7 linked regions of the Homo sapiens genome follow. The protein of the gene in region 2 purifies or fractionates together with the protein of the main gene of each other region. This does not show direct contact. Each region holds a gene or a part of one and is shown on either strand. Other genes may lie near its edges. The genes, in order: EPHX1, PCDHGC4, SNX14, ABCD4, ATP13A2, SC5D and ZDHHC18.

Region 1 (2,470 bases), on a different chromosome or scaffold from region 2:
CCTCACATCTTGCTCCAGGTATCCGTGTGCAAGGAGCAGGCCAGACCCCCTGCCAAGGTGGTCTTGCAGAAGCTCCATCAACCCCTGTGTCCTGCTGAATGTAGGGCAGGGGAAACAGATCCCAGACGAAGGCCCTGCTGAGGCTCTTGGAGGAGGTGAGGACCTGCCTGCAGGAATGAGTTTGCTTTTGATCTGGCCCCAGTGTACCTGCTTCAGCCTCTGGACAAGCCACCCTTTCCAAGCACCCTTTCCTTGCATTTTTATTGCTTTTCTCTTTGCCTAAGTTTCTCTCCTCCATCCAGCAAACTCCTACTTATCCTCCAAGGCCCAAATCAGATACATTCTCCTGGTCATTTCCCCTCTCTGCCGCTTAGACAAAGAATCCTCCTTCCACTGGACTCTCACAGTCCTTTGCGCATTCATTCAACATCTATGTACTGGGCTCTCCCACTGTTCACCCGGCATTGTTCTAGGTGATGGGGCTACAGCATGGCCAAGACAGAGTCCCTACCCCCAAGGCAGGATTCAGTCTCATTTTACTGTCTTTCCCATCCCCAGCACTGTCTGGTCCTGTGTGTCACTGAAGGAATAAAGGGATGGGCCCTGGAAAGGGTGGGTCAGAGCTGACCTTGGTGAAGCCTGAGTCAGGCCACAGAGCTGGGAGTCAGGCATGTAGAGGATACAGCCTCTAAGGCTCTGAGAGATTAACAGCCTCCTGTCTTTCTGCGACCACCCTCCTGGAACACGCAGTCACGTGACCCTGATGCCAGGCTCTCCAGGGAATCAGGAGGAAAAGCCCAGGTGCTCTTGACAATAATGTGGTGCCTGCTGCCCTGTGGGCTCCCTAATCCCCAGAGGGGCCTGTTCAGCAAAAGGAGCACAAGCAGGTGAGCCTGCATCCTAGTCTTGACCATGCACTGTGAGGCTGGGAACAACCCACCAGGCCACCTCACCCAAAAAATGCAGCTACGTTGGTCACAGGGTGAGGATTTGTAAGAAAGCCAACAATAGAATTTGCTGAGTGCCCCATGCAGAGCAACCAGACAAGGGGATGAAGAGGGTGAGGAGGTTGGCTGCTGGGACCAGGGTCATGACTGCAGGGGCAAACCAGGGCCTCACCTTTCCAGGCCTCCATCCTCCAGGTATCGGAATTCCGTATTGGTCCAGGTGGAAAACTTCTCTAGAATATAGGCAGCCAGACCCACAGGAGAGTCATTCAGAGCAGAGCCTGGCGGGGAGCGGGGAGCAAGGGAGAGACTCAGGCCTGGGGACCAGAGAGCTGGAGCTTCAGGTGTGATGTGTGGCACTGGCCGCAGAGGGCGGGGCTGTGTGCAGGAAGCCACGTTCGAGCACAGGCCTGCCTTAACTCCTGGGTGCTCACATGCCTCGCTTCCTTAACTCTGCCTCGGCATCCTCATCTGATAAACAGGGACGATACCTTCCCACTGTCTCCCAGGGCCTGGCACACTGCCTGCTCAGCTTCCTTCAAACTGAAGGGCCTACGCCTCTGCATTTGGTGGGGTCCCAATGAGAAGTGCTGTTTTTAAAAAGGCGGGGTTTTTCAGTCTATGTGCTCTGATTCATGAAAAATGAGAAGCCACCTAAAAAAGTCTAAAATAGGGGATCAGTTACAAATATTGATATACTCATAAGCCAAAATACTGTACAGTCATTAAAAATGGCTGGAACAGGCTGGGGGCATTGGCTCATGCCTGTAATCCCAGCACTTTGGGAGGGTGAGAAAGGTGGATCACCTGCGGTAAGGAGTTCGAGACTATCCTGGCTGACATGGTGAAACCCCATCTCTATTAAAAATACAAAAAAATTAGCAGGGCATGGTGGTGCATGCCTGTAATCCCAGCTACTTGGGAGGCTGAGGCAGGCAAATTGCTTGAACCCGGGAGGTGGAGGTTGCAGTGAGCCGAGATCGTACCACTGCACTCTAGCCTGGGCAACAGAGCAAGACTCTGTCTCAAAAAAAAAAAAAAAAAAGGCTGGGACAGTGGGACAGGCTGGGTGCGGTGGCTCACACCTGTAATCCCAGCACTTTGGGAGGCCGAGGCGGGTGGATCACCTGAGGTCAGGAGTTCGAGACCAGCCTGGCCAACATGGTAAAACCCCGTCTCTACTAAAAATACAAAACATTAGCCAGGCATGGTGGCAGGTGCCTGTAATCCCAGCTACTTGGGAGGCTGAGGCAGGAGAATTGCTTGAACCTGGGAGGCGGAGGTTGCAGTGAGCTGAGATCACACCACTGCACTCTACCCTGGGCAACAGAGCCAGACTGGGTCTTGAGAAAAAATAAATAAATAAAGCTGGGACAATGGCATAAATGAATCTCACAAACATAATATTGAGCAAAAGAAGCCAGACTCAAGGGTATATACTCTGTGATTCTATTCATAGGACTTAAACAGGCACAATCAAAACCATCTCAGTCAGAAGTCAGAGCGTGGTACCTGGGAGAGAA
Region 2 (4,152 bases):
GGCATGACCCGCCCCCAATGCTAAACTGTGACAACTCTGGTTAATTCACGAAACAGTTACAAAGCACAGCGTCTACCACATAGTTACCTCTTACAAAAATGGTGACATCACTATGGGCACTTACTGAGAGGCCAGTACTCTCTAGGACATGGCCTAGCCATATGCCTGGATCAGAATAACCCTCAAGCATTTGTTGAGCCTGCAAAGGTCTCACCTCTAGCCCATAGAGAAGATCAGAGGGTGGGCAGCTTGGGCGAACAGGCTCCCCTGCCATAGGTGCACTGGGTGACTTCACCATCATGAAGCTATCACTCCGAGTGGGTGCAGAAGCCAAGGGTGTACAGCCATGAGAGTGGCCTCCCACATCAACAAACTTGATAGGGTCATCTGACCCTAGCTGGATTCGGAGGATCCCATTGGAAGGGGGAAGCCCCTCCCTCCTTCGAGATCTGGTGAGACAGGCACAGGTGCCAGCAGGAAAGCATGTGACTCCACAGGCTGCCCCACGAAGACACTTAGAGAGTAGTGCCACGAATGAGCCAAAGGAGACAAAGCAAATTGCCACTAGGGACACAGCCAAGTAGAGGGTTAGACGAGATTCTCCTTCCCTTGGAGCTGAAGATTCTCGAAGATCTGGGACAACTGGATGAGTGTCTTCCTCTAAGGACACTAAGAGAGTAACAGAGGTAGAGAGTGGTGGACTACCACTATCCTTTACCACAATGACCAGCTTCTGTGGTGGGAGGTCAGCTGGGATAGGAACAGCCGTCCGCACCTCCCCAGCATATCGAGAGACTGCAAACAGGCTGGGATCTGGGGCCTCCAGGAGCTGATAGGAAACCCAAGCATTGTAACCTGAATCCAAGTCCACAGCAGTCACCTTTGTGATTAGGTGGCCAGCACCAACTGATGGAGGCAGTGCTTGGGGACATAAGGAACCAGGCCGGGCCCGAGGACGGAGCACAGCTGGAGCATTGTCATTGAGGTCCAGCACAAATAGACGAACTGTTACAGTGCTGCTAAGGGGTGGGTTGCCCCGATCCCGGGCCTGCACCTCAAACTGCAGTGTCTGGGTTTGCTCATAGTCAAAGGATCGAGTAGCATGAACAGCTCCTGTCTGGGGGTTCAGAGAGATGAAAGAGGAAGCTGATACATCTCGATTCCTGGGCTCCAGGAGTGAGTAGGAGATAAGCGCATTCAAGCCAGAGTCTGGGTCAGAGGCTGCAAGGGAGCAAAGCAGGTCCCCTGGGCGATTGTTCTCAGGAACAAACACCTCATGTGACCTCTGAAAGAAAGAGGGTGGATTATCATTCACATCTGAAATATTGAGGAAAATAGTTCTGTGGGTACTGAGAGGAGGGTTCCCAGCATCAGAAGCAGTGACCATGATGTCATAGCTAGATTTGGCCTCTCGATCCAAGGGTCCAGCAGTCACCAGGGAGAACTGGTTCCTGAAGGCAGACTTGAGGGCAAATGGCAAGTGGTCAGGAATGCGGAGGCTCACATCTCCGTTTGACCCTGAGTCTGGATCCTGCACACTGATAAGTGCCACCACAGTGCCAGGTTCTGCACTCTCGGGGAGGGTTCCAAGCTCTGAGGTCACTGTGATGTAAGGGGCATTGTCATTTACGTCCAGCAGATCCACTCGAAGGCTGCAATGTTGCTCCATGGCTGGAGAACCCCCATCGCGAGCCCGCACATCAAATTCATAGTAATTCTCACTCTCAAAGTCTAGGGGCCCCAAAAGAGTAAGCTTTCCAGTAGTGGGGTGCAGGCTAAAGAGGTTTCTTACACGATCAGGGGTATGACCACTGAAATAAAAGGTGACGTTACCACTGGGACCCAGGTCCGGGTCTGAGGCATTGAGCTGGATGAGCACCATGCCCGCTGGTGCGCTCTCCAACACACTAATCCTGTAGCTGGATTGCTGGAAGGCTGGGGCGTTGTCGTTTACGTCCAGCACGGATACCCGGAGCTCTGCGGTGCCAGATCTCGGCGGGTTCCCTCCATCGACAGCAGTCAGCACCAGGCGGTAGTCCGATTGCTTCTCTCGATCCAAAGGCTTCTCCAGGAGCAGCTCTGGGACCAGGCTGCCGTCGCTGCGCTTCTTCACATCCAGTGCAAAGTGTTCATTGGAGCTCAGCCTATAGCTGCTAATCGAATTGCTCCCCACATCTGCATCCTGAGCCTTTTCCAACGGGAAACGCTGTCCTGGAGGAGCTGCCTCCCCAATTTCCAAGTCCAGCTGCTGCCGCGGAAAACGGGGGGCGTGATCATTCACATCTACGATCTCTACCTCTGCTCGGTACATTTCCAAAGGACCTTCGGTGACAAACTCCAGGGGCACGATGCAGCTGGCACTGAGCCCACACAGTGCCTCTCGGTCGATTGGGTTCTTGATGAGCAGGGCTCCGCTGTCCAAATCCACACGGAAGTGTCTTTGGTTCACCTCTCCAGCGACCTGCAGCCTGCGAGCTGACAGACTGTCCGTATCCAGCAGGAAATCTTGAGCGACATTCCCTACAAAAGTCCCTTCCTGTGACTCCTCTGGGACCGGGTAGCGGATCTGCCCACAAACGTAACCCAGGTGGTAAAAGAGGAACAAAAGGGTAGCCCACCGCCAGATTTCTGTCCAGCTTCTCACCTTGCGGAGCATTGCTGCCGCCCGCTAATTCTCTACTTGCTCCTGAGACGCGGATGAAGCCGACCCGCCCCAAACAGCCACAGCAGCTGGAGACACCTATCTCCCTTTCCCCGCGCCAGCTCTGGCGCGGTTCGGCCGGCGCCGCAAGGGTTACGCGCCGTTTTTGCTGGTGGCGGGGTAGATTTGTCTGCCTTTCACCACCCGATTGGCAGACAGCGGCTCCCGGGCTCAGCCAATAGGCTGAGCAGAGAACGTCCCAACAGCAGCAGGGTTAATGCGTCGCAGCATTGGAGGGGAAAAAGCCCACCCTATCCTCCACGCTCCCCCACCCCCCAAAAAACCCAGCCTATCTTTTCGCCTTCCTCCCGCTCAACGGCATGTTTTTCCACGGGTTGTTATCTCTGTGGGGAGGCAGACAACATATATATATATATACATTTTTTTTCCTAACACACCGACTGACCCCGCCCCTTTTCGGCGGGGAAAACAGCCACAGCCTGAGCCCTAGCAACCTGCGGCCCACTGAGAGGGAGAGTAGCCATTGGAGAGTGGTCACTTTGTTCAAGCCAGTGTTGTCATCAACCAGTATTCTAAATGAGTAGCTTCCGTCTCAGTCTGATTGTATTGGAGCAACTGCTAATTAGAACCACTGCCATATACTCAAAACTCTGCCCTTCTGCAGAATATTCAGAAACGGATCCATCTCTTTGCAGAAAAGGCTTACACATTAACGTAGCCAATTAAATTTATGCAGTACATGTTCTCATTGTAACAGGAGACACAGCGGAAACCAAACCTTTCTTATTCAGACATTTGCTAGTGATACACTAGATACACTAAATTACCATTCATTGATTTCAAGGACAGTATGGAAGCGGGGTGGAGGAAGCCAGGAGAGGGAGATGTTTCAAAACAGTAAAGAATCAGTGTGTCTGGGAGGTGCTAAGGACCAGATCTCTTTACCTGGCAGAATGCTAATGTTCATAGATTTAATAGCTTCCTTGAATGATTGAGATCAGCTACCAACAGCATTGTGCCTACAAATTCCCTTTATCTGACACCAAGGTATTCTTGATCTTTTGTTAATTACCAACGAAGACCATTTCAAAAGAGCAAGCTTTTCACTTAGCCCCAGGGGACCTCTTGGAGCTGGAGACTTGATCTCACCCCACCCCCACCCTCATCCAGACCTCCCAGCAACCTAGCTACTCCCTTGCACAAGCACAGAAACACAACACAATTCACACCGTAGGTACCTACGACCTGCAATCTGAGTGGGAAACACACCAGAGCTCAGAGAAATAGAAAAATCCATCCTGATCTGGACATGAAATTTCTTAATTCAACCAAGTCCTTACCTAGGTTACACTGGCTGCCAAAAAAAGCAGCAACAACTGGAGTTCTTATCCTTCCCCAATATTTTTCCAAGCCTCGATCCTCAGGAATATCCTTTTGACTATGGTGGGAACCAATATTCTGGTGTCAAAAAGAGGAATCTGGCTTTCTGT
Region 3 (3,500 bases), on a different chromosome or scaffold from region 2:
AGAGAGCGAGGTTCAGTGTTTTCACAGAATATAGCATCTAAAAAAGAGTAAAAAGAAATATTTCTGGAATTTTCATCTATTTATACACAAAGGATTTCCTCATAGTAGAAATACTAATAAACCAAAGCAAAACAAGATTTCTTCCTCTTTAGATTCAATTAAAATCATAGAGTACACAAAATATGAAACAAACACATTAGAAAATACAAACCTCTGAGAAGTGTTATGAGTGAGACCAAACGGTGCTCCTGAAATAGCTGTTCTAGTTTACACTGAAGATAGTAATCAGTATACATTTCCAGGGTGTTTTTAAAGAGGATTCGAGTTCCCATTAAGAGATGATGAAGCCAGTCAGGAACCTGGAAAACTACCCGTCCTGAGAAAGGATCAAATGGGATACCTCATTGTTCCAGATGAATTGGTATTTTTGAAATTTGCCAATGTAGAAAACACAAATGACCATGGTCAATATTTTATTTGTAAACACTAGCAACTTTAATATGATCAAGGCCAATCGTATTGAATTATTATAAAAGGTATCTTCAATTAAAAAGACAGTTATGATGGGGCAATACTCAAGATCATTATTTGCATCACAGAAGAAGTAAGATGAATGAAAAACAAGTCTTAAACCACTTAGATCTTACCTACATACATCAGGTAATCATAGACTCCTTCTACAGTCATCACCTCCATAAAATAATTCTGATTTTGCTTTCTCTCTGTATTTTCAGCACGGTTTGCATTATTTTTAAACAGATCATTGAAAAGCTAAAATAAAAGTTGGAATAATAAAGAGATATATAGTTTATTACATCTGCTGACGATAATCAATAAGGATTAAGTGTCACACAGCAAAGGCATTTAAACTTTTTCCAATCAAAACAGAATATTAGATAGGTTAATATATGCTTCTAAAATTCCCCATTTATGCCCCGAATTGCAATAAAAAATACATGTTCCCCAAAAATATTACATAAAAACTAAAATATTCATTTTAGTTACAGTAGATAATTCATTATCCATTAAAGACCCCTTTGTTTTTACATACCACAAAAGCAAAGTAACATAAAAAGATGTACAAATATATTATTGATAGCTAACTTTAAAACTAACATGATTTAGGCCAGGCGCAGTGGCTCACGCCTGTAATCTCAGCACTTTGGAAGACGGAGGCAGGCAGATCACCTGAGCTCGCAAGTTTGAAATCGGCTTGTCCAACATGGTGAAACCCCATCTCTACTAAAAATACAAAAAAATTAGCCAGGTGTAGTGATGCGTGCCTGTAGTCCCAGCTACTTGGGAGACTGAGGCAGGAGAATAGTTTGAACCTGGGAGCCAGAGGTAACAGTGAGCCGAAATCGTGCCACTGCACTCCAGCCTGGGTGACAGAGCAAGACCGTCAAAAAAAAAAAAAAAAAAAAAAAAACACTAACATGATTTAAAGATTATAAATCACTATAAGTAGAGGTAAAAATCCAGCGTTAGGTGAAATTTATTTGGACAATATTCAAAGCCCACAAAGGCCTAATCAATGTTGGGGTGGGGGGGAACTAAAACAAGATATTAAGAATTAATGGTTGCAGTGAGCCAGAGATTGCACCACTGCACTCCAGCCTGGGTGACAGAGTGAGACTCTGTGAAAAGGGAGAAAGAGGGGAGGGGAGAGGGAAGAGAAGTAAGGAGACTGTGGAGGAAAGTATATTCGATTTTACCTGAAGATGAATTTTTTAAAAGCCTCCTAGAAAAGTATCCTGAGAACAAAGACCATATATTCTATTGGCTCTTATGTCAGATATTATTAACACAGACACATACTTAAAACATTTTTCCCCAACCCAAAAAATAGGAAAAGGGCTCTCCCTTCTGATATATTATTCCCTCTACTCTTTTAAATTTTCAGTGTAATTTTTTTTTTCACTAAAAAACAGTGATATTATATAGTAAGTCTGGAAAACGGGAAAAACAACTCAATTTTGTTTTCCCTCTGTATTTTCAGCACGGTTTGCATTATTTTTAAGCAGAAATCTAAAATAAAAGTTGAAATAATAAAGAGATATACAGTTTATTACATCTGTTGACAATAATCACTAAGGCTAAATAAAGTGACACAGAGCAAAGGGGCATTTAAACTTTTAAATTAAAACTCAACCACCTAATAGTGTTACTATTAAACTTTTGTATATTAACTTGTACTCTCTATATACATAGCCACAAATCAATGAGGTTCAAAAAATATCACATCCTACTTTTTCATTTAGCACCATATCAAATATCTTTATGTTGCTTTATAGTTTTCATAAGCACAATTTCATCTGCTGCAAAACACTCCTTGAATAGATGTTCCTTAAAATAATCATTCCTACAATGTTAGAATTTCATGTTGTTTCCAATTTTTCACTTATGTAAACAATATTTTAATAAACACCTTTACATGTTATAAGCTCTTCTCTTATTTTTCTCCCTGACAAATTCCTAGCATTCCTAGCATGAGTTCAATAGGTTATATTTTGTAACCTTCATGACTCATGAAGTAATAAACCTGAAGAATTTTGTAATTGTTAAAGAAATTAAATTGGTTATAAAAAATCTTCCTACAAACAAAACTGGAGGCCTAGATGACTTTACCAACTCTATCAAATATTTATAAAAAGTCTACCAAAAATAAAAAATGCTAATAAAACTTTGATACCAAAACCTAACAAGGACAGAATGAGAAAGAAAAATTATAGGCTATATTCTACCCATAAACATGAATGTAAACTTCCTTAATCTTTTTTTTTTTTTTTTTTTTTTGGAGACAGAGTCTTGCTCTGTCCCCCAGGCTGAAGTGCAGTGGCGCGATCTCAGCTCACTGCAACCTCCACCTCCCAGGTTCAAGCGACTCTCCTGCCTCGGCCTCCCGAGTAGCTAGGATTACAGGCACCCACCACCACGCTTGACTAATTTTTGTATTTTCAGTAGAGGCAGGGTTTCACCAAGGTGGCCAGGCTGGTCTCAAACTCCTGACCTCAAGTGATCCATCCACCTTGGCCTCCCGAAGTGCTGGGATTACAGATGTGAGCCACTGCACCTGGCAACTTCCTTAATCTTATAAAGGTTATCTATTAATACAAAAAGAGCTACACCACACTATTCGATGGTGAAATAATTAAACAATTTCCTTTCTATATAGCAGTCCTAGTCAGGAATAAAACAAAACTGCAATCATCTGCAACAATTGTGTCAATATAAAAGAATTACCAGATATTACTAAAACTAATGTTAAGTCTAGCAAGACGACTAAATAAAAATTTTCTATCTATATATACAAGTTATAAAATGAAAACATTAATAATATTAAAGATACCATTCAGAGTATTAACAAAAATAAAAGATAGAGGTCCTCTGAGCTTCCATAGCTCCCCATGCTGGGCACTACACCTTGGCACTAAACACCTTCTTGAGGACAAGGAATGTATCCTTATATTCCCAGTGCCTAGCACTCAATCGTAGGCATG
Region 4 (3,500 bases), on a different chromosome or scaffold from region 2:
ACAACCATGACAGAAGGAGAGGACATGACCTAAGGAGGACCAGCTCACCTGAGTCGGGGTAGACCTCCTTCAGGGGATATATCACCTGAGAAAAGAAAAAAACCACACCAACCTAGGAGGGCGAGCAAAAGACGGAGCTGCACACAGCCCACCCTCCCTCCAGAACCCACTGGAACCTCCCAAGGAGGAGAGGTGGGAACGCCTGGCCTGGGTCAGATGGGAGAGGCTCTGGCCGGCAGACAGCAGGGCAAGGTCCCTACAACCTTCAGAAGTGTGTTTAGGGGGAACAGTCTGACAGCCTCCTGAGGGCAGGGGCCCCAGAATCCGACCTTGGGTGTTTGACATACGCGTGTGGTATTTGGCGTGAGTCCTTGCCCCATTTACCTGCCTCAGGAGCTGCTATGAGTAGTGGGCCCAATCCATGGATGTGAATAGAAGGTTCTTAGAGCCAGCAGTTCCCAGGCCCGGGCCACTTCACCACCTCACCTTTTGCCCTGACTCTAGGACCTGAGACTTGTCACAGTGCCAGAGGTCCCAGCTGTGGGTGGGCGGGGTTGAGGAGGGAGGAGTGAGCCCCCTGAACTAGACTGACCTGCTCCCGAAGGGTCCCGTCAGTGAAGAATGGCTTTTGTGGCAGGAATAGCACCCCATGGGGCCCAAAGTCCGTCAGCATCTGCACTGAGCCTGCAGAGCCCACAGAAACCTCCATTGTGAGATCTCCCAGAAGAGGCAACTGCCTGTCTCCTCTCTTCCTTGTTCCCCAACAGAAAAGAATGGATTCTACCACACCGTCCCCGCCTTCACCCCACCCCTAGGGCCCAGGCTGGGTCAGAGGCAGGGAGGGCCTGGCTCTCACCCCGTGTACTCGTCCAGAGGCCACCCAGAACCCGGAGCAAGGAGGTCTTGCCAGTGCCCGTGTTGCCTGTGATGAGCAGGCTCTGTCCCTCGGAGATCTTTAGGCTCAGATCCTTGATTAGGGGTTTGTCAGAGGAGGGGGCAGAGATGGAGACCCGCTCAAGGAGAAATGCTGTGTCTGCTGGCTCTGCCGCTGGCCACCCTGGGGGTCTGTGTCAGAGAAGAGAGGGGGCGTGAGGAAGATGGGCAGGGTCAGTATTGCTGTGGGGGAGGCACTGCTCCCGGGAGCCACCACCTGTGGATTATTATGGGCTGACTTGCATCCTCCCAAAATCACATGCTGAAGTCCAGCCCCCTAGTGACTCAGAATGTAACTGCATTCGGAGGCAGGGTCTTTTTTTTTTTTTTTTTTTTTGAGAGAAAGTCTTGCTGTCACCCAGGCTTGAGTGCAGTGGAGCTATCTCAGCTCACTGCAACCTCCGCCTCCTGGGTTCAAGCGATTTTCCTGTCCCAGCCTCCTGAGTAGCTGGATTACAGGTGCCCACCACCGTGCCCATATTTTTAGTAGAGACAGGGTTTCACTATGTTGGCCAGTCTGGTCTCGAACTTGTGACCTCAGGTGATCTGCCCACCTCAGCCTCCCAAAGTGGTGGGATTATAGACGTGAGCTTCCGTGCCCAGCTGGAGGCAGGGTCTTTAAAGAGATGATGTTAACATGAAGTTGTTGGGGTGGGACCCTAATCCAATATGACTGGTGTCCTCTTAAGATAGAGGTGGCAGGGGCACGCACATATAAAGGAAAGGCCACGTGAGGACACAGCAACAAGGTGGCCATCTACAAGCCAAGGAGTGGCCTAAGAAACCAACCCTGCTGACAACTTGATCGTGGACCATAAGCATCCAGAATTGTGAGGAAATTAATTTCTATTGTTTAAGCCAGCCGGTTTGTGGTTTTCTGTCATGGCAGCCTGAGCACATTAATACAGGGGTAGGGGTGGAACTTCTACTCTCTGCCTGGCTGGACAAAGCCCCTTATGGGACTGATCTTACTCAGTCTAATGCCCATGAGTCTCAAATATCATCACAGATGAGGACACTAAGAATCAGGTGGCTAAGTAACTGCCCAGGTTGCAGAGCGGTATTCAACAAATTCTAATGCTGGTGGGTCTTCATGGCATCACAGTGTGACCAGAGTACTAATAACAAGAATGGGAGTGGTTAAAGCTAAATGGTTCTGGAGTTTCTGCCTCTGCATGGATGCCTGGCTCCCCACAGAACAGCAATTCCAGTTTCCTACAGACCCTCCTTCATGCCCAGCCTCTGCACTCATGGTTGCATGAAGCTTTCATTTGGAACAGAAGCAACAGTTAAGGTATTAGCTCCTAAGAAAAGCAAGTTGAGTGTAGGCCCTGGAATTCAGACTGATTTTTGAAAGCTTATGATGTGGCCACTGTCCAAGCACTTTCCATGGATGATGATATCTAATCCCTACAACAAGTGAAGGAAGTTCATTATGACCTCCTTTTCAGACATGAAGAAACAGAACAGTTAGGTAATCTGCCCAAGGAAAGTGTGGAGATCAAGCAAATCCTGAATGCACAGAAATATTACAGATCCACGCAGACACACGGATACAGACATCTCTGGGGCTGAGTGAGGTGGGGGAACAAAGACAGACATGCCCCAAGGAAAGGGGCAGGGAGAGGAATCAGCGGGAGGAGGAAGCACAGGAAGGGGAGGACACTGCAGATTCCTGTTATCTCAGGCAGAAGGTGTGTGTACTTTGCTTCCACTGGCCGGGGAATGGTGTAAATTAACACAACAGATGCCGGAACAGCAACATCGACTGTGAACTTACATGTGCCTGGCATTCCATTTCCATTTACTCCTTACAACTCTGCTGCCCAGCTGGGAAAGGGCAGGACTCCAGGGTAACCCAAGCCAGGTGATGCCACAGCCTGCAGCCTCAACTACTGCTCTGCCAGCCCGCTACTCACGTGTCCAAGCCCCACTCGCTCTCGCCCAGGATCTCGCAGTCCTGTGACTTCAGGGACATGTCCAGAAGCGTCTCCCGAAGCTGCCCAATTCTGAACAAGAAAAGAAAATCTGAGGCAGGGTCTGGGAGCCAGGTGAAGGTGAACTCCTTTTCCTATCTCACACCCACGAGTACATGGTATGTCTCTGTTCCTTTTTTCACTCAGCCACTTCTGCCAGCAGCACACACTTTGCTCAGGAGCCAGAGGGGTGGGACACGGCCTCACCTGTGCGTGTAGCCAGCCACATCTGAGAGCGTCGTGGACAGGTCGATGAGCTGGGTGAAGCAGCTGATGAGGTAGATGCACACAAAGGCATTCTGGACAGGATGGGAAGAGGTCAAGCAGGTCTCGACTCGAGCCCACAGACACTGGGCCAAGGACAGAGAGGGACAGCATGTGGGGTGACCAAGAGGGAGTCTCACCTTGCTGACCAGGGTGCTAAGCTCTGCGGGACTCAGGTCTCCATAGACCCCGCTGAAAATGGGGATTGCGATGACAACGTAACTCAGGATGCTGCCCAGATAGTCAAAGGTGTTGATGCCGACTGTAGAAAACACATCTGTGAGACACCCAGGAACCATCCACATGCCCTACAGCGGACACAACCCT
Region 5 (3,500 bases), on a different chromosome or scaffold from region 2:
TGTCCCCTTCTCCATAGTGGATCGTCATCTCAGAACCTGCCGCAGTCAGCCTAGCCAGAGAGACCAGGTCCAGGAATTGGAGGTTCTGCCCAAGGCTTGGGTCACAGATTGGGGCCCCACTCATAGGGATTGGAGGCCAAGAGGCAAATCCACGCAGCCTGAGCATCTATGGGGTCCCCAGAGACACGCCCTAGAGCCTGGGTCCTCTCTGTGCGTCCTCCACTTTCATGCTCCCAACAGTCCCGTGGGTTGGGCCTGGGACTGCACTGTTCACACCTGAGAAATCCAAGCTTCAGTTGGAGGCTGTGACATGGCCAAGGTCACACAGGGACAAAGAGAAGCCAGTGACCTGGACACAACTAGAATAAAGTGTGAACATCCCAGCCCTCTGATCGGGGGCAGGCACCATGAAAGAGATCTTTGAGTCTGGCCCCATAGAAATCAGTCTGTCACTTAGAAGCTATGTGGTTTTTTGTTTTTTGTTTGTTGTTTTTTTTTTTGAGACAGAGTTTTGCTCTTGTTGCCCAGGCTGGAGTGCAATGGCGTGATCTCGGCTCACTGCGATGTCCACCTCCTGGGTTCAAGTGATTCTCCTGCCTGAGCCTCCTACATAGCTGGGACTACAGGCGCCTGCCACCACGCCCAGCTAATTTTTTTTTTTTTTTGTATTTTTAGTAGATACGGGGATTCACTATGTTGGCTAGGCTGGTCTCAAACTCCTGACCTCAGATGACCCACCTGCCTCGGCCTTGCAAAGTGCTGGGATTATAGGCATGAGCCACCGCACCTGGCTGGAACTATGTGGTTTTAGGCCAGTGGCTTCACCTGTCCATGCCTTGGTTTCCTCATCTGTAGAATGGAGCTAATGGTGGTACCGGCCTTGTAGAATTGTCATTGCCATTGTATGACACTTAGATAAAGCACTTGGCGTGTAGTGGGGGTTCAGTAAATACCCTTATCCTATTTATTTATTTGTTTATTTTTTTTGAGACAGGGTCTCCCTCTGTCACTCAGGCTGGAGTGCAGTGGCGCGATCTCAGCTCACTGCACCCTCCACCTCCCCAGCTTAAGTGATCCTCCCACCTCAGCCTCCTGAGTAGCTGGGAGCGTAGGCACAGGCCACCCCATCAGGCTAATTTTTGTATTTTTTGTAGATATGGGGTTTCGCCATGTTGCCCAGGCTGGTCATAAACCCTTGTCCTCTTTAGAGCGGAGAAACTGAGGGCCCTGGGGATGTCTGGTTGGGTGGGGATGGGATTGACCAGGAGAAAGGCCTGGCTCCAGTCCTTTGGCAGCCACTGGGCCCTCTGCTCCCATGGGCACAGGAGACCCAGCCTGTGGCTGGGCTGCCCTGGGGGACGCGGCCCTGACGCTGCCTCCCGCCCCTCCCCCAGGCACTGAACCCCTACTATGGGTTCCAGGCCTTCAGCATCGCGCTGTGGCTGGCTGACCACTACTACTGGTACGCCCTGTGCATCTTCCTCATTTCCTCCATCTCCATCTGCCTGTCGCTGTACAAGACCAGAAAGGTGAGTGCCATAAGGTGGGTGGGGACGGGACAGGTGGGTCCCCAGGGGCCCCCACCCACTCACGGCCCTCTTGTCCCCTGCCCACAGCAAAGCCAGACTCTAAGGGACATGGTCAAGTTGTCCATGCGGGTGTGCGTGTGCCGGCCAGGGGGAGGTGAGGAGCTAGGGCCCAGGGGGCGGGGGCAGGAGTGGGAGGGTGGGGGGGCATGGCTGGGGCTGGCCCCACCTAGCTGAGCTCCTCTCCTGCCTGCCTGCAGAGGAAGAGTGGGTGGACTCCAGTGAGCTAGTGCCCGGAGACTGCCTGGTGCTGCCCCAGGAGGGTGGGCTGATGCCCTGTGATGCCGCCCTGGTGGCCGGCGAGTGCATGGTGAATGAGAGCTCTCTGACAGGTGAGCCCCCAGCCCCTGGCCTGCAGCTTCCTTCCTCCCCTGCCATCCAACCCTTTGCCCTGCGGCAAAAGTTTTCATTTGAGTTTCCTTTTCCTTTTTTGTTTTTTTGTGAGACGGAGTTTCACTCTGTTGTCCAGGCTGGAGTGCAGTGACATGATCTCAGCTCACTGCAGCCTCCACCCCCCAGGTTCAAGTGATTCTTGTGCCTCAGCCTCCTGAGTAGCTGGGACCACAGGTGCATACCATCACGCCCAGCTAATTTTTTATTTTTAGTAGAGATGGAGTTTCACTATGTTGCCCAGGCTGGTCTTGAACTCCTGACCTCAGGTTATCTGCCCACCTCGGCCTCCCAAGGTGCTGGGATTTCAGGCGTGTGCCAGCGCTCCGCCTCCTCTTCCTTTTTCTCTCAAGCAACAATCCCAGCTTTAGGACTTGCTAACCTCACACCCCTGGGCCGTTACCACGTATCATCTCCGTGCCTCAGTTCCTTCTTCTGTAAGATGGCTGTCAGTCACTCCTCCTGGACAGAGTTGTGCAAAGTGCTTAGGAGCGTGAGAGGTGCAGCATAAATGGCCAGCCACCCAGTGCATCTGGGCTATTTCTCCTTTTTTTTTTTTTTTTTTTTTTTTTGAGATGGAGTTTCACTCTTGTTGCCCCGGCTGGAGTACCATGGTGCGATCTCAGCTCACTGCAACCTCCACCTCCTGGGTTCAAGCGATTCTCCTGCCTTAGCCACCCAAGTACCTGGGATTACAGGTGTGCGCCACCATACCCGGCTAATTTTGTATTTTTAGTTGAGATGGGGTTTCACCACGTTGGTCAGACTGGTCTTGAACTCCTGACCTCAAGTGATCTGCCCGCCCCAGCCTCCCAAAGTGCTGGGATTACAAGCATGAACCATAGCACCTGGCTGCATCTGAGCTGTTTCTATACCAGTGCCCACCTTCAGGTCATAAAGATTCCAGATGGCACAGGAGAGTGGGAAGCCCTCTCCCAGAGTGAGAGACTGCGGTCCCCATTCACTACCCCACAGTCCCCTTCCCTTCCCCTCCCCAGGGCAGCCACTGTGAAGGGTGTGAGGTGTCTTCCACGCCTTTTTCTGCATTACGTGTGTGCACATGGGCTGATTTGCCTCTCCTTTTGTTCTGAACGTGGGATTGTATGCTGTGTATTGTTCCATACTTTGCTTTTTCTCCTGGCATCCTTCCACAAGCACGGATGGCCCCACCTCATGGCTGCATGAGAGTCCACAATACGGATGTATCGTAACTGACTCAACCGGCCCGCTCGCCATGAGTATTTAGAATGTGATTTTCCAGCCATTGCAAAGGACGCCACAGGAGCAGCTTTGTCCTGTGTCTCTTGATGTGTGCAAGTATTTCTTTCTCTGAGATGTGTTATATTTTGGTGGTAGATACTGGAGAGAGTTTACTAAAAACCACAGGATAGTGGTTTTTTTCCAGGGAAGTTTTCTGGCTGGCATTGTATTTGTATCACAAATCGTAGGCCAGGCGCAGTGGCTCGCACCTGTAATCCCAACACTTTGGCAGGCAGAGGTGGGTGGATTGCCTGAGGTGAGGAG
Region 6 (4,140 bases), on a different chromosome or scaffold from region 2:
GTAAGGAAATGAAAAGACAAGCTAAATTGGAGTAAATATTGGTAATACATACATCTAACAAAGAATTTTTGTCAATATATACAAAATCTTATAAGTCAATAACACCAAAACAACCTAATTTTTAAAATGGCCAAAGATTTAAACAGATACTTTACAAAAGATATAAAAAGTTTGAAAAAGAAAAAAAAAAAAAGCAGGAGAAAAGGTGCTTAACATCATTAGTCACAGGAAAATGCAAATTAAGCCACAGTGGGACACTACCTCACACCCACTAGAATGGTTACAAATAAGGACTGACGATACTAAGTGTTAGTGAACATGCGGGAAAAATGGAATTCTCATCATTGGGAGCAGGAGGGTAAAATGGTACAACCCTTTGGAAAATAGTTTCACAGTGTTTTATAAAATTAAACGTATACATATATATCTCTTCCCTATGACCCAGCAAATCTAATAGATATTTACCAACGAGAAATAACAACATATAGCCACACAAAGACTTGTATACAAATGTTTGTAGCAACTTTATTCATAATAATCCCACGCTGGAAATAACACAAATATTCATCAGCAAATACATAAACCAACTGTGGTATATTACAATGAAATACTATTCAGCAATGAAAACAAAAAGCTACAGACACAGGCAACAGCAAATATCTCTAAACATGTTAAGCTAAAGAAACTAAACACAAGAGTATATACTATCTGATTTAATTTATATGAAATTCTAAATCAGGGAAGAAAACTAACCTTCCAGTAACAGAAGGTGGATCAGTGGTGACCTAGGGCTGGGGAGAATGACTGCAAACGGAGAGGAAATTTATTCTGGTAAGAAAATGTTCTTTACTTTGATTGGGGGTGGTGGTTACATGGGTGTACACGTTCATCAAAGATCATTGAACTCTACAGTAAAAATGGCTACACTTAATTATAGTAAATTATAATTTCATTAAGTTGATCAGAAAGAAAAAACGTCCCAATGAAGCGACAGACAAAAGTCACCACACCAGTGTCTGTCTTAATATTTGAATATGCACTAAATTTCTAGGTTTCTATTTGTTTCATACCACATGTCAGGGGGGCAAGTTTACATCTAAATAAATGGCTTAATGAGTTAAATTATAATAGAGGAAGATATTTTTATATATATATACTTTTTTATTTTTAGAGATAGGGTCTTGCTCTGTCACCCAGCGTGGAGTGCAGTAGTGCAATTATAGCTCATTGCAGCCTAAAAGAGGAAGATATAACAAAATTATTCAAGAAATGAATAAAAGCCTATGGTATGAGTGCTTTCCAACTGAGTGATTAACTTTTGATATGCTATTTTGTCTTTGTTTGAATCGTGAGTTGTGAAGTGTTTAGAAAAATCTGTCAAGTACACAAGTCTGCTTTTTTGGTAGTTGGATCAAAATATTAAATCTCTTATCAAATGTTTAAGAAAATGTGATTAATAAAATATGTAAATGGTATTAAATGTTCAGGATAATTGGAATTTACAAATTGTTAAAGAAATGGGAATGTAATTTCTCATTTTTATCAAATTTACTGTTCTTATATCTTCAAGTTGAGCTTAGAGATTTAAAAATGCTGTATTTTAAATGTATTTTAATAAAGCAAATATTAAAACAAGTATTTATAAGTATTTTTCTTCCCATACCAAAAGCCTGCTTTGACAGTAAAGCTTGTTGACACATGGTTCAAACACTTCCTTCCTGCCTTTAAAAAATTTATTCTGCTTTTCAAGGAAGGTATGTTTCTATTTTATCTACAAACCTTGTAGACTGGCCTTATGGTTTTAGCAATATAAAAACACACAAAGTGATGCATTTTTTAAATGAAATTATTTAACAACACAATGTATTTTACCACTCTTACAAAGATAACTTACAGTAAATAATGTTAACGATGTTAGTTTTACTTATACGATTTTTCTGTGTACCCTCTATCTCTACTTCACCTCAATGTCTTTCACCCTCCAATTTTAAGGTGAAAATATCTAGGCTTCTGCCCTCTGCAACTGATTTCTATTGAGGGCCTATGGAGGTAAAATGACAATAATCATTGAATCTAGAAAGAAAAAGCATCAAGCACAATTTACATGAACAATAGTTTCAGTTGACATTTAACTGAATGCTTCTAACTTATTTAATCTTATTAGATAGGCAGTGTTTTAATCAATTTACAGATGGAGAAACCAGGGATGGTGCAACTTGCAAGTGGCAGAGCCCTGTTTATCTCCAAAGTTCCTGTTCCTCTGAGATGAAGTTATAGATTAACCTAAGTTTGTCCTTTCTTGATGTAACCAACTAATATCTTTGAGGATCTTTTTTCTTTTACCCAGAGTGCTGTGTTAAGTGCTGAGTATACAGATTCATTCAACCCTCTAACCAGTCCTTGTAGTACTGATTCATCTGTGGTCAAAATCTGGGGTACTGGTGGGTTTTGTTTCCAAAGGGTTATGACTTTGAGTGACTAAAAAAAGATAGTTTATCCTTGATGTAGGGACCATCTTTGATTTCTCATTACTTCCCCTTTTGACCCCTCCAAAGCACTTAGCAAATGTCAGCTAATGAATAAATGATAAAAAAATGGTTGGCCAAAAAGACAGCATCAGAAGAGAATTTTTACCTAGTGCAGTGCTTAGCACCTATCAGGGATTTATTAAACATATATGGAAGAGAATGACATTTCTGCCATTTTATTAATAAATTCAACAAAGTATTTATTGAACTTTAACCATGGCTTGGGCATTTGTTAAGGATGAGTGGTTTAATACAATGATGATTCAGACACGGTCTCTACTTCCAAGGAATCTGGCATCTCAAATAGGTAAGACACACATAAAAGTAATAGGTGATAGCAGTAAGTGCTGAAATAAGACTGTCATTCAAGTGTTGTGAATTTGAAGAAGTTGGGAAGATCAGGAATGCAAATTTCTTCCCCCTTGTCTTAGTCCATTTGTACTGCCTTAACAAAGTATCTTCAACTGGGTAATCTATAAATAATAGAAATTTATTTTCTTACAGCTCTGGAGGCTGGGAAGTCACGGTTAAGCACCAGTTGGTTTGGTGTCTGCTGAGTCCCCAGTTGCTGCTTTCAAGATGGTACCTTGTTGCTGGGTCCTCACGTTAGAAGGGACAGAAGGGGCTGGGCATGGTGGCTCACACCTATAATCCCAGCACTTTGGGAGGCCGAGGCAGGCAGATCATGAGGTCAGGAGATCAAGACCATCCTGGCTAACACGGTGAAACCCCATCTCTACTAAAAATATAAAAAATTAGCCGGGCGTGGTGGTGGCGGGCACCTGTAGTCCCAGCTACTCGGGAGGCTGAGGCAGGAGAATGGCGTGAACCCGGGAGGTGGAGCTTGCAGTGAACCAAGATCACGCCACTGCACTCCAGCCTGGGGCAACAGAGCAAGACTCCATCTCAAAAAAAAAAAAAAAAAAAGGGACAGGAGACAGAAGGGCTGAACAGCTGCCTCACACCTCTTTTTAAGTCATTAATCCCAGAGCCCTCATGACTTAATCACTTCCTCAAGGCCCCACCTCTACATACTATCTCACTGGCAAATACATTTCCACATTTGAATTTTGGAGGACACATTCAGACCACTGCACCCCTCAAGTTGGTTAGTGTCTTTGAATATCTTTTTTCATGCTGTGACAATCTCATGGTTTCAAACTTTTCTTCTATCTGTGTTAATCCCAAATATCTTTGTTCTCAGTCATCTCCCTAGTTTCCATCTTTCTCCCAGACCTCCTCTCTACATAAATAACCTGCATGCACTGTAAAATCCATGTATCAAAAAACTGAACTTGTGTAATTCTCTTCCAAATCTGTCCCCAGCTTCTAGAAGATGGGAGGAAAACATGATACAAGGGTATAAGGAAATTCACTCAGTACTGCAGAGACAGCATGGAAGACAAAGACTCAGTCTCTGTGTTTCTGAAAGGTCTTCTCGAACCATATCCACCCACTTCTCAATTTCTACCACAAAAGTAGAAAACGTAACCTTGATTTTCACTTTCTGTCCTGTAACTATAAAAGTCATCTGTAGAAGGTAATTTGGGTCCTCACTTCCATAAATATTCTCTGACTTCCTCTAATAGAAAGTAGGAGAATGTGGCAGTAC
Region 7 (4,002 bases), on a different chromosome or scaffold from region 2:
AGTGAGCCATGAGGCCACCTGCAGGAAGGGGATTCCAAGCACTGGCCCAGAGGTAGGAGTGTGCACGGAGGATGACATGCCTGGAGGGAAGACGGGGACAGAAGACAGCAGGGGACAGAGGCCAGGGAGGATTCAGGCCTGAGTTAGAATCAAAAGGGCACTCTGGCTGTTGTGTGGGGGCGAGAAGTAAGGCAGAAGTTGGGAGCCCTGCTGGAGGCCTGTGCAACAATCCACCAAGCCAAACAAAGAAGCAAAGCCATTCATAGCAGGAAAGGCTTAGAGAGCACCTTACCTTTTCCCAGAGCAATGGGGAGCATCCAGTCCAGACCCAGGTGAGCTCTCGGCCCAAACCCAAACTCTTCTGCCAATCTACCAGCCCCCAATGAGGACAAGCGGGGACAAACTGCAACATGGTTCACGAGCTCTCCCCAAACCCAGAAGTCCTTGCTTTCTCCCTCGCTGGGGACAAAACAGTCACCAGTGAAGATACCCGGTCAACCCAGAGAAGGTCCTGCTTCTAGTTCAGAAGTTAGGCCAGATATCACACTGCAGGGTCATGTGGGTCAACCACGGCAAGTACTGCTTCCTCCTGCCTCGGCTGCAGCCCTGGGTGTGGGGACTGAGAGGGCAGCCCAGGGGATACTAGAAAAGGCATTTCCAAAACACTCATGTGGCCAGCCCAGGGAAGTGGATCTGAAACTCAGCCCAGAGCTGAGCTCTGGGCCCCCCAGAGCTTCTGCTTGTAAATCATCCCTGAACTTTTTATCCACCCTACTCAAAAAAAAGGGCAGAGTGTGTGGTTAAAGGGTAAAGGGAGAAGCTAATTTATAGGAAGTCTTCACCTTGCTTCAAGGGGAAACCCAAAGTTGCAGATACATGATCTGGCAGCTAGAAAGGGTACCTGGGGGCGGGTGTCTCTATGATAGCCTTACCATGGCCACATGCCCTTGGGAAGTGTTTTTTGATAAAGACAACACAAGTACTAATAGCAGCCAACATAGTGTGCTTGTTACTGGGCTAAAAGCTTGCATGTGTGACCTCATGCCACCCTCAGGACAACCTTACGGGGTGGGTACTATTATAAATCCCATTTTACTGATGAGGAAACTGGGGCACTGAGGGGGTGAAGTGACTGCCCTGAGGTCACGCAATTAGTGGGTGGTGGAGCTGGGATTTGAACCAGGTCTGTTAGAGTTCTTAACTACACTGTATAATTAAGAGGAACAACCACAAAGGATGGGGAGTTGGGAGGGGACAGCAGGGCTTATGAAGCAAGGGTGGGTGGGTGGGCGTGTGAGTGTGTGTGCAAGGAATCACAGTGCAGGTGGCTCAGAGGTGGGTGGAAAACTTCTAATACAAATATATGACCCTCCATCCATAAAATGGAGATTATGTGTGGGCCAATCCTGGGTCACCGGGGGATATGAAGAGGACAAAAACCTAGGGGGGCAAATATGACCTGTCACACGAAAGCACTCCGAAGTCTTTCCTGAAAAACAACAAGGCACCGCAGCTGTTGCTGATGTGGAACAGGCCAGAGGGACGTTCCAGAATGTTGAGCAGGGAAAGAAAGCCAGGTGGTCAGCAGGGGGGCCAGGGGCCTGGGAGCCGGCTGGGTGGAGGCGGGCGGGATCTGAGGGAAGGACAGGAAGCTCTGGAGAACCTAAGGAAGGTTCTGGAGAAGGAAAGGGGGCCCGAGAGGCCCAAAGATTTTGAGAAAAGATGCCTTGGGGCCTAGGGTGTGCGTGGCTGAGGGGAAGCAAAAGCGGGGTTGGTGTCTGAGACTAGAGAAAAGGAGGGGACCCTGGAGGGACCCGGAGAGGGCAGCGAGGATGACTAGGATGTTTATGGTGGGTGTGCACAGCCAAAGGACACACAAGATCTAGAAGTGGTCAGGAAGGGATACAAGGGTCAGAAAGAACTTGGGGGGTTGGCAAGAGATGGTCCAGGGATGGGTGAGCAGGAGGGGCCTGTTCAAGAAGCCCTGGGGCAGGTTCTGAGAGGGCAGCGAGGATGGGGGCCGTGGAGGGGCATGGAGGCTGGTGTTCCTGGCAGTGGCAGGCAGACAGGTGCCAGGGTGGGGTCAGGGAGAATGGAGGGGCTGGGAGGGTGGAGGGCACCAGCGCGGATGGGGTACCCAAATGGACCAAGGAGGATGGGGCATCTGGCGGGGATGGGGGTGCGCAGGGGCCAGGGGGGCAGACAAGAGGCCCGAGGAGGATCCCAAAGGGGCGGGGAGGATGAGGACCAGGGAGGCGAAGGGGAAGGCACGGAGTGCCCAGCAGGGATTGGGAAGGTGGGGTGCGCGGCAGGGGGCTGGGAGGGGGCGCCGAGGCAGCGGAACTCACTCAAAGACGAAGAAGAGGCCGGTGGTGGTGAGGATGAGCAGCAGCGTGAGCGCGAAGACGCCGCCGTGGCCGGCCAGCATGAGGCGGCCGCCGCAGTAGAAGCGATTGCGACCCGGGAACACCTCCCACTTGCGCCGTGGGCGGCGGCCGAGGCTCCCGCTCCCGCTGCCGCTGCCGCTGCCGCTGCTGCTCCAGCGCGGCGGGGCGGGGGCGGCGGGCGGCGCGGGCCCGGGGCCCGGAGTCGGGGACGCGGCGGGGCCGGGACGGCGCGCCCCCGGGGAGGCGGGCAGCGGGGCGGCCCCGGGGCTGATCTGCTGGTACTCGCAGTCCTTCATGCAGCCAGCCGCGGGCCTCGGCTCCGCGCCCCGCGGGCCGGCCGGGCCACTCCGGGACCGGGCCGAGCAGCGGAGGTGGCAGCGGCGGCGCGCGCGGCGCTCGCTCGCTCACTCACTGGGGCGGCCCCGCCATCGCTCCGCCCCCGGCCCGCCGCCACCGCCCGCCGCGGCCTCCCGCCGCAGCGCCCCCTCCGCCTGGGCCCGGGATGGCGCTTGGCCGGAGGCCCAGCTCTGACCCGCGGCGGGGCCCCGCAGGTCCCCGGCCCTCCCAGTCTCCCTTTTCCCTTCTGCACAAAGAGGGGGCCAGCAGACGCGCACTCGAGGGCTCTTTCTGTTCTGCAAGCAAGCCGTTTGTTGGGCGTCCACTGTGTACCAGGCACGGTGCCAAACGCCGAGATTCAGGTGGTGGACTTCGTGATCTACTTCTGGCAGTCTGTAATTCCCCAGGCTTCGCCCATCTCTGAGGGTCGAACTGACAGGCATTTGCAGAGGCAGGCAGGCGCGGGGAGGTGGGGCACACGATTTGCTTTGAAAGCCAGGACCTCTTCTACCTTGAAGTCCAGAGTGCCCACTGGAGGTGTGTGGCACACCCTCTGGCCTCGTTCACCAAGTTCTGTGTCCTGGGCCCAGGCCCAGATTTTCCTAGGTAGCACATAATGTAGAGGGGTCATGCCTGAGGGCCCCAGTGTTTTTTCAGGAATTCTGGGAGTATTCATTTTCTACTGCTGTGTAACAAGTTACCACAAATTTAAGGCTTAAAACAAACATTATCGGCCGGGCGCGGTGTCTCACGCCTGTAATCCCAGCACTTTGGGAGGCCGAGGTGGGTGGATCACAAGGTCGAGAGAGACCATCCTGGCCAATATGGTGAAACCCCGTCTCTACTAAAAATAAAAAATTAGCTGGGCATGGTGGCACGGCATCTATAGTCCCAGCTACTCGGGAGGCTGAGGCAGGAGAATTGCTTGAACCCAGGAGGTGGAGGTTGCAGTGAGCCGAGATTGTGCCATTGCACCCGGCCTGGTGACAGAGCAAGACTCCGTCTCAAAAAAAACAAAAAACAAACGTTATCTAACAGGTTCCAGGTCAGGAGCCAGAGAACAGCTTAGCTGGGTCCTCTGCTTAGTCTCACAAGGCTGCAATCAGGCTGCATTCTCATCTGGAGACTCAGCCAGGGAAGAATCCACTTGCAAGCCCATTTGGGTTATTGGCAGAATTAACTTCCTTGCGACTGTTTAACTGAAGAGGGCCTGGGATTTTTGCTGGGTGACTGTATAACTGAGGAGGGCCTGGGATTTTTGCTGGGTGTCTGCTGGAGG

Evidence for each region.
Region 1: the proteins of PCDHGC4 (region 2) and EPHX1 purify together in Homo sapiens (affinity purification with mass spectrometry; one large-scale study listed by BioGRID and IntAct). This does not show direct contact.
Region 3: the proteins of PCDHGC4 (region 2) and SNX14 purify together in Homo sapiens (affinity purification with mass spectrometry; one large-scale study listed by BioGRID and IntAct). This does not show direct contact.
Region 4: the proteins of PCDHGC4 (region 2) and ABCD4 purify together in Homo sapiens (affinity purification with mass spectrometry; one large-scale study listed by BioGRID and IntAct). This does not show direct contact.
Region 5: the proteins of PCDHGC4 (region 2) and ATP13A2 purify together in Homo sapiens (affinity purification with mass spectrometry; one large-scale study listed by BioGRID and IntAct). This does not show direct contact.
Region 6: the proteins of PCDHGC4 (region 2) and SC5D purify together in Homo sapiens (affinity purification with mass spectrometry; one large-scale study listed by BioGRID and IntAct). This does not show direct contact.
Region 7: the proteins of PCDHGC4 (region 2) and ZDHHC18 purify together in Homo sapiens (affinity purification with mass spectrometry; one large-scale study listed by BioGRID and IntAct). This does not show direct contact.

The regions. Positions count from the first base shown.
Region 1 is NC_000001.11:225,841,124-225,843,593, reverse strand, and holds part of EPHX1 (epoxide hydrolase 1), read right to left. Parts: exon of another isoform or gene 2,407-2,470; intron 1,229-2,406; coding exon 1,120-1,228; intron 1-1,119. UniProt on the Homo sapiens protein: Biotransformation enzyme that catalyzes the hydrolysis of arene and aliphatic epoxides to less reactive and more water soluble dihydrodiols by the trans addition of water.
Region 2 is NC_000005.10:141,483,678-141,487,829, reverse strand, and holds the start of PCDHGC4 (protocadherin gamma-C4 isoform 1 precursor), read right to left. Parts: upstream 2,801-4,152; 5' UTR 2,657-2,800; coding exon 215-2,656; coding exon of another isoform or gene 41-214; intron 1-40. UniProt on the Homo sapiens protein: Potential calcium-dependent cell-adhesion protein. May be involved in the establishment and maintenance of specific neuronal connections in the brain.
Region 3 is NC_000006.12:85,513,859-85,517,358, forward strand, and holds part of SNX14 (sorting nexin-14), read right to left. Parts: intron 772-3,500; coding exon 648-771; intron 377-647; coding exon 212-376; intron 38-211; coding exon 1-37. UniProt on the Homo sapiens protein: Plays a role in maintaining normal neuronal excitability and synaptic transmission. May be involved in several stages of intracellular trafficking. Required for autophagosome clearance, possibly by mediating the fusion of lysosomes with autophagosomes.
Region 4 is NC_000014.9:74,289,435-74,292,934, forward strand, and holds part of ABCD4 (lysosomal cobalamin transporter ABCD4), read right to left. Parts: intron 3,436-3,500; coding exon 3,314-3,435; intron 3,209-3,313; coding exon 3,117-3,208; intron 2,943-3,116; coding exon 2,853-2,942; intron 1,066-2,852; coding exon 857-1,065; intron 685-856; coding exon 593-684; intron 86-592; coding exon 49-85; intron 1-48. UniProt on the Homo sapiens protein: Lysosomal membrane protein that transports cobalamin (Vitamin B12) from the lysosomal lumen to the cytosol in an ATP-dependent manner. Targeted by LMBRD1 lysosomal chaperone from the endoplasmic reticulum to the lysosomal membrane.
Region 5 is NC_000001.11:16,998,429-17,001,928, reverse strand, and holds part of ATP13A2 (polyamine-transporting ATPase 13A2), read left to right. Parts: intron 1-1,394; coding exon 1,395-1,529; intron 1,530-1,616; coding exon 1,617-1,683; intron 1,684-1,786; coding exon 1,787-1,918; intron 1,919-3,500. UniProt on the Homo sapiens protein: ATPase which acts as a lysosomal polyamine exporter with high affinity for spermine. Also stimulates cellular uptake of polyamines and protects against polyamine toxicity.
Region 6 is NC_000011.10:121,309,771-121,313,910, reverse strand, and holds the end of SC5D (lathosterol oxidase), read right to left. Parts: 3' UTR 501-4,140; downstream 1-500. UniProt on the Homo sapiens protein: Catalyzes the penultimate step of the biosynthesis of cholesterol, the dehydrogenation of lathosterol into 7-dehydrocholesterol (7-DHC).
Region 7 is NC_000001.11:26,825,486-26,829,487, reverse strand, and holds the start of ZDHHC18 (palmitoyltransferase ZDHHC18), read right to left. Parts: upstream 2,801-4,002; 5' UTR 2,684-2,800; coding exon 2,349-2,683; intron 1-2,348. UniProt on the Homo sapiens protein: Palmitoyltransferase that catalyzes the addition of palmitate onto various protein substrates, such as CGAS, HRAS and LCK. Acts as a negative regulator of the cGAS-STING pathway be mediating palmitoylation and inactivation of CGAS.